3 separate regions of the Homo sapiens genome follow, and all the other regions are linked to region 1. The links come from fine-mapping of genetic effects on gene expression. A gene starts in region 1. Each other region holds a variant in brackets. All regions are shown on one strand. Distances are between the middles of the regions. Region 1 holds the start of NT5DC4 (5'-nucleotidase domain containing 4). Region 2 holds the start of CKAP2L (cytoskeleton associated protein 2 like). Region 3 overlaps LOC102724955 (a long non-coding RNA gene).

Evidence for each region.
Region 2: its variant is fine-mapped to the expression of NT5DC4 in whole blood (TOPMed, PIP above 0.99).
Region 3: its variant is fine-mapped to the expression of NT5DC4 in whole blood (TOPMed, PIP above 0.99).

The regions. Positions count from the first base shown.
Region 1 is chr2:112,719,789-112,722,546 of GRCh38, reverse strand. NT5DC4 (5'-nucleotidase domain containing 4) reads right to left here and starts at 1,527. Exons shown (of 17, transcript NM_001393655.1): 1 at 1,394-1,527; 2 at 656-729; 3 at 444-561; 4 at 269-364; 5 at 1-64. The coding sequence starts at 1,467.
Region 2 is chr2:112,764,192-112,766,949 of GRCh38, reverse strand. CKAP2L (cytoskeleton associated protein 2 like) reads left to right here and starts at 2,341. Exons shown (of 9, transcript NM_152515.5): 1 at 2,341-2,388. The coding sequence starts at 2,352. RefSeq lists a silencer at 1,962-2,121 and an enhancer at 2,572-2,711. The variant T/C (reference allele first, on the strand shown) is at 1,540.
Region 3 is chr2:112,679,027-112,681,784 of GRCh38, reverse strand. LOC102724955 (a long non-coding RNA gene) reads right to left here. Exons shown (of 4, transcript XR_001739643.2): 3 at 1,891-2,063; 4 at 649-777. Among named protein-coding and RNA genes, the nearest start is that of SLC20A1, 34 kb to the right of the region's middle. The variant A/G (reference allele first, on the strand shown) is at 1,402.

The sequences.
Region 1 (2,758 bases):
GTCGTCCCTCTGAATGAACTTGCTGGGGTAGAAGCTCCAGATCTCTGCCCTGAGGAGGGGTAGGCTGGGTGCAGCCAATGACCCCTCCCCAGTGCCTCCTGGAGGCCTGTCCAGGCTCTGGCCATCCCTTCCAACCACCACGCATCCCTTCTGTGCTGAGCCTCCACCGTGGGCCTGCGTCCTTCCTCCCTCCCTCCCTCTGTCCTCCCCCAAGGTGAGCAGTCCTCCCCTCCTGGCCTGCCACTCTCCCGGCACCTTTGTCCCTTACTCCGAGAGGAAGGTGAAGCCATAGGCACCCAGCAGCACATTCCCGTGGGCGTCCACCTTCAGCAGGTTCCCATAGAGTTCATCGAACACCAGCCGCCTGCAGACGGGGGGTCGGGGGGCACTGTGGGTGGGGGTACCAAGGCCGGGTGGCCTCCCACCTGTCCTGAGCCACACACCTGGTGGGGAAGGTGGGGTCGTAGGTGTAGCGCAGGATCTCATGCGGGTACCCAATGCACACCAGGCGCTCCAGCAGCAGCTCGAAGGTCAGGGCCTCATAAGCTGGGGACTTGTAGGCTGCAGAGGCCCGGACAGAATCAGGGCTTTGGTGCCCAGCTGCCCACCCCTGCTCCCTCCAGCTCCCAATACGCTGTGTTCCAGCCCTCTCTACCAGCCAGAGTGTAGTCCATGTCGAAGCCAAAGCAACGAATCTTCCCCAGCGCCAGGCTGCGGTTGACAAAAATCCTGGGGAGAGAGAGGAGGATGTTGGCATCAGTCCACCAGCCCCCCAGAATCCAAGGCCCAAGGACAGAGGGGGTGGAAACCCCGCAGAGGAGGGCAGAGCACCCCCTGCAGCTGCAGAAAGCACAGGGGAAGCAGGTCAGGCCAAGCCAGGGCCCTGCCTGGACCCATGTGTGTCTGAAGGCAAGTGTGAGTGTGCATGTAAGCATGTGTGAGCATGTGTGCAAGCGTGCATCTGAGTGTGTGCGGGCAATCAGCCGCTTGCTGTCCCACCATGCAGGCATGTTATAGGCATCCAACCCTGTAAGAAAGTAGGTGCAGTTGTTGGTGTGAGGGTTGTCACCTTCTGAAATGGGACCCCAGTGTCCAAATTCAGAGATGATGTGTTTGTCACAATTGGATAGCACATGTCACTGTGTCCGTGGTGAAGGGGAGAGATCTTCGTGGAGGGAAGGAAGTGAAGAGGACCTCCCGCCGGAGTGTGTGTGGTCAGTTCCCTGATGGGTTGTTACAGCTATGGAAGTGCGTCCCTTGTGAGTGCAAGTGTACGTCTGCATTTTGGGAGTCCCCATAGCTGTGTATTTAAAGGAGCCCCTGTGTGCTGCTGTGGCGTGTGGGGTGTTTATGGGCTGAGACCCCTGGCCCCCACCCCAGGTGCCCATCTCACCGCTGGTGCCAGTCCTGCTTCGGGCCTTGAGGGGAGACCAGTCCCTCCGGCTCTCTCCAGTCTACACTGGCCATCGTCACCCAGAGTGAGGAGGAGGCAAGTGTCCCTTCCTCAGCCTCCTGCACACTATCAGTGGGGCCCAGCCACTCTCCTCTCCCTCAGAAGCTTCAGGCACCACTGACCCAGCTGGCCCCACCCTGTGCTCCCATCTCCCCCGAGCCCCTTTGAGGGAGGAGTCAGCCAGGACAGGCTCTGGTATCCCATCCTTTTCTCTAGAGCAAAAGCAGCAAGGATCTAGGAAGAGCAATTCATGTCCACTGCACCCTCCTCATTCCTAGGGCTTATGCATCCATGGACCTCAGCGGCCTGGAGAGTAGCGGAGAACCCAGAATGAGGCAAATGACGGGATACAAAGTCAGGAGGCTCCGTACTGTACTCATGATAAAAGAAATAACTCAGTACTCTTGCTTTATGCACAATTCTGACACATTTGGTTATCAAATTTCCCAGCTCAAGGCCATTTAGAGAAGACATTGCTAGAAGCATGCCAAGGGCTATAAGAATTGGGAAGATAACTGGGATCTCAGAATGGGGGGGTGGCAGAAAGTACAAAAGGAAGTGTCAAAAAGCAGAACCACTGGGGCCATTTAGTGTAGAGTTCTAAATACTCCCTGAGGGCCCATACCACTGGCTCCACAACCAAGCATGTGACTTCCATTTGGAGCGGTGACCTGGATCATCCAGAAAGACTTAACTGAAGTGCCAGGCCCTCTTTTAAAAAGAAAGACAAGGCTGGGCACAGTGGCTCACGCCTGTAATCCCAGCACTTTGGGAGGCCAAGGTGGGTGGATACGTGGTCAGGAGATCAAGACCAGCCTGGCCAAGATGGTGAAACCCTGTCTCTACTAAAAATACGAAGAAAAAAAAAATTGCCCTCTTGGGAGCCTGAGGCAGGAGAAAAAAAAAATTAGCCTCTTGGCAGCTTCTCGGGAGGCTGAGGCAGGAGAATTGCTTGAACCCAGGGGTTGGAGGTTGCAATGAGCCGAGATTGCTGCACTCCAGGCTGGGCAACAGAGTGAGATCCTGTCAATAAAAAGGGAAAGAAAAAGGAAGAAAGAAGGAAGGAAGGAAGGAAGGAAGGGAAAAGAAAAGAAAAGAAAAGAAAAAGAAAGAAAGAAAGAAAGAAAGAAAGAAAGAAAGAAAGAAAGAAAGAAAGAAAGAAAGAAAGAGAAAGAAAGAAAGAAAGAAAAAGAAAGAAAGAAAGGAAAGAAAGAAAGAGAAAGAAAGGAGGGAGGGAGGGAGGGAGGGAGGGAAGGAAGGAAGGAAGGGAAAGGAAAGGAAATGAAGAAAAGGAAAGGAAGAAAG
Region 2 (2,758 bases), 44 kb before region 1:
GCCTCCCATGCTGGAGTGCGGTGGCATGACCACAGTGCACTGCAGCCTTCAACTTTTGGGCTCAAGTGATCCTCCCACCTCAGCCTCCTGAGTAGAAGGGACTACAGGTGTGTGCCACCATGCCTGGTTAATTTTTGTAATTTTTTTTTTTTTTTTAAGAAACGAGGTCTTGCTATGTTGCCCAGTCTGGTCTCAAACTCCTAGGCTCAAGCAATCCTCTTGCCTCAGCTTCACAAAGTGCTGGGATTGATTACAGACATAAGCCACCATGCTTGGTAGAGTTGAGAATTTTTAAACCTGCCTAGCTATTTTCCCACATTTTGTGTCCTACAAAATAGACCGTCAAATACCCAAAGGATGGAAAAAAACGAGGCAGAACTGGCCTATGTTGCTCCAAAGGACTAGGACCAGTAAGCAAGGAAGCTCATTTGAGTTCATTTTAAGTTTCCTAATAAGCAGGGGTCTCCAATAACAGGACAGGTAAGGCAGCTCACCAACACCAGCAGTATACCTGCAAAGGTGCAGTACCTACATGGGGTCTGTGGAATACTCCAGCACTGCGTGGGATATCAGGCAAGGTGACTTCTACAACTGACATGCATTCAACCACCTAGATTCTACAAAGACCAAAACAAAACCGCCTTCACTTTTCTGAAACTGTTGGTGAAGGAGTCCCTTTCTCAGTCATTAACAAAAATAATGATCAGTTTTCCTATTTTAAACATTTAATACACTATTGAAAATATCAAAATGCATAAATCCAGAAACCCTGGCTCTCTTCCAAACTCCCTATTTACGGCTAAAGAGAAGGGCTGCTGCAGTGGCTTCATGCCCTGCTGAGTACCCAACTGGTAAGCTGAACCTGGCCAACAGGTGCCCAGATATGACTGCCCCTCCACACACGACTTCTCCAGCATCCATGGAAGAGGAACCTTCATACACAAGGAGCCAAAAGCATTTTCCAGACCTCTTTAAGAAACTGGAGAATAGATGAAACAGGACAAACTTCAAAAGAAAAAAAATTTAGGATTAAAACAAGGGGAATGAAGTGTGTCTAGGGATTCAGGACAACGAGGCCTGCGATCTCCTAGTAACTAGGAGAAACTAGGCCTGCGTTTCTCCGTTAGCCTTATGGCCTTATAGTCAGCTGATCAGGTGAAATCGAAAATATACCTTGAACAAGAGATCACCGTGAGAGGAGTAAGGCAGTTTCTCAAAAAATTAAAAATAGAATTGCCGTTTGATCCAACAATACCACTTCGTGGTATATACCCAAAAGAATGAAAAGGAGAGTCTCAAAGAGTTATTTGTGCATTCATGTTCATATTATTATTCACAATAGCCAAAAAGTGGAAGCAACTCAAGTGTCCGGAGAGGGATGGACCAAGAAGCAAAATGTGGCATCTCCACACAACGAAATGCTATTCCCCCTTAAAAGGAAAGGAAATTCTGACACATGCTACACATGGATGAACCTTGAATACTTTATGCTAAGTGAAACAAGCCAGTCACAGAACAAATACTGCATGATTCTACTTA[T/C]ATGGCACCTACAGTTGTCAAATCCATAGAGACAGAAACTAGAATGGTGATTGCCTGGGGCTGGGGGAGGGAGGAGTGCGGAGTTAGTGACGGGTACAGGGTTTCATTTGGGAAGATGAAAAAGTTCTGGAAAGGACAGTAGTGGTGGCTGTGCCACAATGTGAGGGTACTTAATACCACTAAACTGCACATTTTTGAAAAATTTAACACTTTAAAATGGTTAAAATGGTATATGTGATGTTATGCATATTTTACCACAATTAAACGAGCCACCCTGCAGTACTAAGAACTAGGAGCCTTTAGATGCATAAGACCCATATGTCCTCTTTATAATATTATTTTTTCACAGCTCCTGTGAGTCTGAGACTTTGAAAGGACAGAATCAGGTAGCGGCCCCAGCATCCTGGGAGGACCGCCCTGTCTCTCCGCCCAGGGACTCCCGGCGCGCCAACCCCAGCTGGATTCAGCGTAACCGCCCCCCAACCACCAGCCCGGCTGAGGCCCCCACGGAGGGTCCCACGCCCACTCGGAGGCGCACTCACAGGCGCACTCAGAGGCGGGCGGCGCCGCGCCCCGAGGAAGCCGCCCTCAATGCCGAGGTGCGCTGCACGTTCTTCCAATCAAAGGGCCCCAAGGTCGGGTTCTCAAGGCCAGAGCCAACCGCAAAGAGCCTATTGCCTGTTGTCCCGCCCTCCCGTGCTGACGACTAGCGAGTTTCAAACCCGCAGGAGCCAATGAGGACGCGTGGACGCGCGGCACGCCGGTCCTGGCTACAGGCGCGGCGTTTGAAGAAAAACTGTCACTGAAGAGTCATGGTGGGGCCCGGGCCTACCGCTGCTGCCGCTGTCGGTGAGTACGACCGCTGTTCCCGTTATTCTCAGGCGTTGGAACACGGCCGGGGAAGTAGGAGGCCACCGAGTGAGTTCGTCCCGCGGGAGGTGCCCGTCCGCTCGCCTGCCTAAGTTTCCCCTGGGCGTTTTCCATCCCGGGAGCGCAGACGGGACCCCCAGGTAGACGTCTGGGTCCTGGGCGGGGGAGGCTGTGCGCAGGCCCAGATACCTCACGGGCGTATTTCCAGAAAGCCCTGCAGCAGCCTTGCAAAGAGATGTCATTGTCACCACGTTCCGGATAAAGAAACTGAGGCCCCTTGCTCGGGTTTTCACCAGCAGTGGGAAGCTGCGCGCTGTTTTGATCCACATTTGGCTCCAGGCAGAGCCGG
Region 3 (2,758 bases), 41 kb after region 1:
TTTGTTTTGTTCGTTTTTTTGAGACAGGGTTCCACTCTGTCACCCAGGCTGGAGTGCAGTGGTGTGATCTCGGCTCACTGCGGCCTCAAACTCCTGGGCTCAAGTAGTCCTCCCTCCTCACTTCCCAAGTAACTGGGACTATAGGCCTGTGCCACCAGGCTGGCCTATCAGACTGTTTTATTTATTTGTTTATTTATTTTATTTTATTTTTTGAGACAGAGTTTTGCTCAGGCTGGAGTGCAGTGGTGCAGTCTCGGCTCACTGCAACCTCTGCCTCCCGGGTTCAAGCAATTCTCCTGCCTAGCCTCCCGAGTAGCTGGGATTACAAGCTCCCACCACCATGCCCAGCTAATTGTTCTATTTTCAGTGGAGACGGGGTTTTACCATGTTGGCCTGGTCTCAAACTTCTGACTTCAAGTGAGCCGCCCACCTTGGCCTCCCAAAGTGCTGGGATTACAGGTGTGAGCCGCCGCGCCTGGCCTATCAGACTGTTTTAAATCCAACACTTCACCTTAGGAGATCTCACCAAGAGTACAAGGCTCCAGCAATAAAACCCCAGAAATGGGTAACAGAGGCATTTCTACAAAGCCCCAAATCACCTCCCTTGTGCTTTATTTTCCTTCTCCTTCAATCACCTGCTGATTTTTATTGACTTTGAAGACCCTAGAAGCACAGGTCACAGGTTCTGTGGTAGGGACTCCGGTCTCTGAACACATGTAGAATCTCAGTCTCTGTGGTATCCAGATCTTCTGCCGGCTGCATGCTTTTCAGGAGGAGCTATTGCCAAAGCACACACCAAAATGGTTTCAATGGTCCGTAAATAATTTTCCATGCACTCAGATTCTCCTTAGGAGGAGCAATCCAATTGGCATCTAGTAGTCTCATTTGTCTTAGATTTGGAAATGCTCCCACCTTACTGGTTGGAAGTTTTCTCTGTGTGTGGGCACCTGGTAAACTGTCTCCGCTTTGCTTTCACTTTCCCCACCACTGCACTGGTACATTCCCTAATGTTCTGGCCGTGTGACCTTGGATTGCCTTCTTTACCTCTACAATGCCTTAGTCCTCTCATCTGTAAGATCAAACTTCCAGATTGAGTTATTGCAAAGAGTAAATAAGTGAAAGCAAATGAGTGTTAAATTAAAGCAGGCCAGGTGAGGTGGCTCATGCCTGTAATCCCAGCACTTTGGGAGGCTGAGGAGGGGGATCACCTGAGGTCAGGAGTTTGAGACCAGCCTGGCCAACATGGTGAAACCCTATCTCTACTAAAAATGCAAAAAGTAGCCAGGCTTGGTGGTACACTCCTGTAATCACAGCTACTCGGGAGTCTGAGGCAGGAGAACTGCTTGAACCTGGGAGGCGGAGGTTGCAGTGAGCCAAGATCATGCCACTGCACTACAGCCC[A/G]GGTGACAAGAGCGAAACTCTGCCTCAAAAAAAAAAATAAACAAAAAATTAATTAAGGCAAGCTATGACTAATTTCATACCACTGTAATTACTGTCTGATTTCCATTGGCCAATCCCATCTAAAAATGACATGACACGAGAAATCTAAATTATATCTATTTCATAATTACATATTTAATTACAAATTAAATATGCACTTAAAGCAAATACTAGAACGGAACATAGAAAAATAACAAGAGTAGATTGAGACTCGCAGGTAGGTGATTTATAATGTACCATTTCTATAACGGGAAAAGTAAACTCCAAAGAATTGTATTGGTTAGAACTAAAATTTTGAAATGCATTAAATATACATATTTTGTGATATCTATGAATGATAAAAACATCTTCCCTTCAGCACCTGCCTTAGCTAGAGCTCTGATATCTATTATTACATAACAATCTATATCAAAACTTAGTGGCTTAAAACCAGCAATTTATTTTGCCTACATTTGGAGGATCAGGGATTTGAGAAGGGCTCAGTTTGGCTGCTCTTCTCGGCTCACATGGCATCAGTTGGAGTGTTTCAGCTGGGGCTGTAGAATCACCTTCCAAGACTGCTTGCTCACACGGCTGGCAGGCTGGGGCTGGCTGTTGGCTCACAGCTCTGCCAAGGATGTTGGCTGGAGAGAGAAGGGGAAAGAGATCTTGATTCCTCTCCATGAATCTGCTTGGACTACCTCACAACACAGCAGTCTCAGGGTAGTCAGGCTTCTTTTATGGAAGCTACTTTTCCCCAGGGCAAGTGTTCCAAGACACAGGAAGTGGAAGCTGCCAGACTCCTAAGACCTGAACCTGGAAACTGGCAGTCGCTTCTACCAAATTCTATGACTCACAGCAGTTAGAGCCCATCCAGTTTTAAGGAGCGGGGACATAGATCCCACCTCTATGGGAAGAGTGTCAAAGAAACTGGCCATTCTTAAATTGTCACAGTTAGCCAGGCACCGTGGCACACCTGTAGCCTCAGCTACTTGGGAGGCTGAAATGGGAGGATCGCTTGAGCCCAGGAGTTGGAGTCTGCAGTAAGCTGTGATGGCACTACTGCACTCCAGCCTGGACAACACAGTGAGACCTCATCTCTTTAAAAAAATTTTTTTTAATTGTCATAGTTATTCTTTTCTTTCCTTTCCTTTTTTTTTTTTCTTTTTTTGAGACAGAGTCTGGCTCTGTCACCCAAGTTGGAGAGCAATGGCGTGATCTCGGCTCACTGCTACCTCCGCCTCTTGGGTTCAGCCTCCCAAGTAGCTGGGATTACAGGCACCTGCCACCACACCCAGTGAATTTTTGTATTTTTATTAGAGACGGGGTTTCACCATAT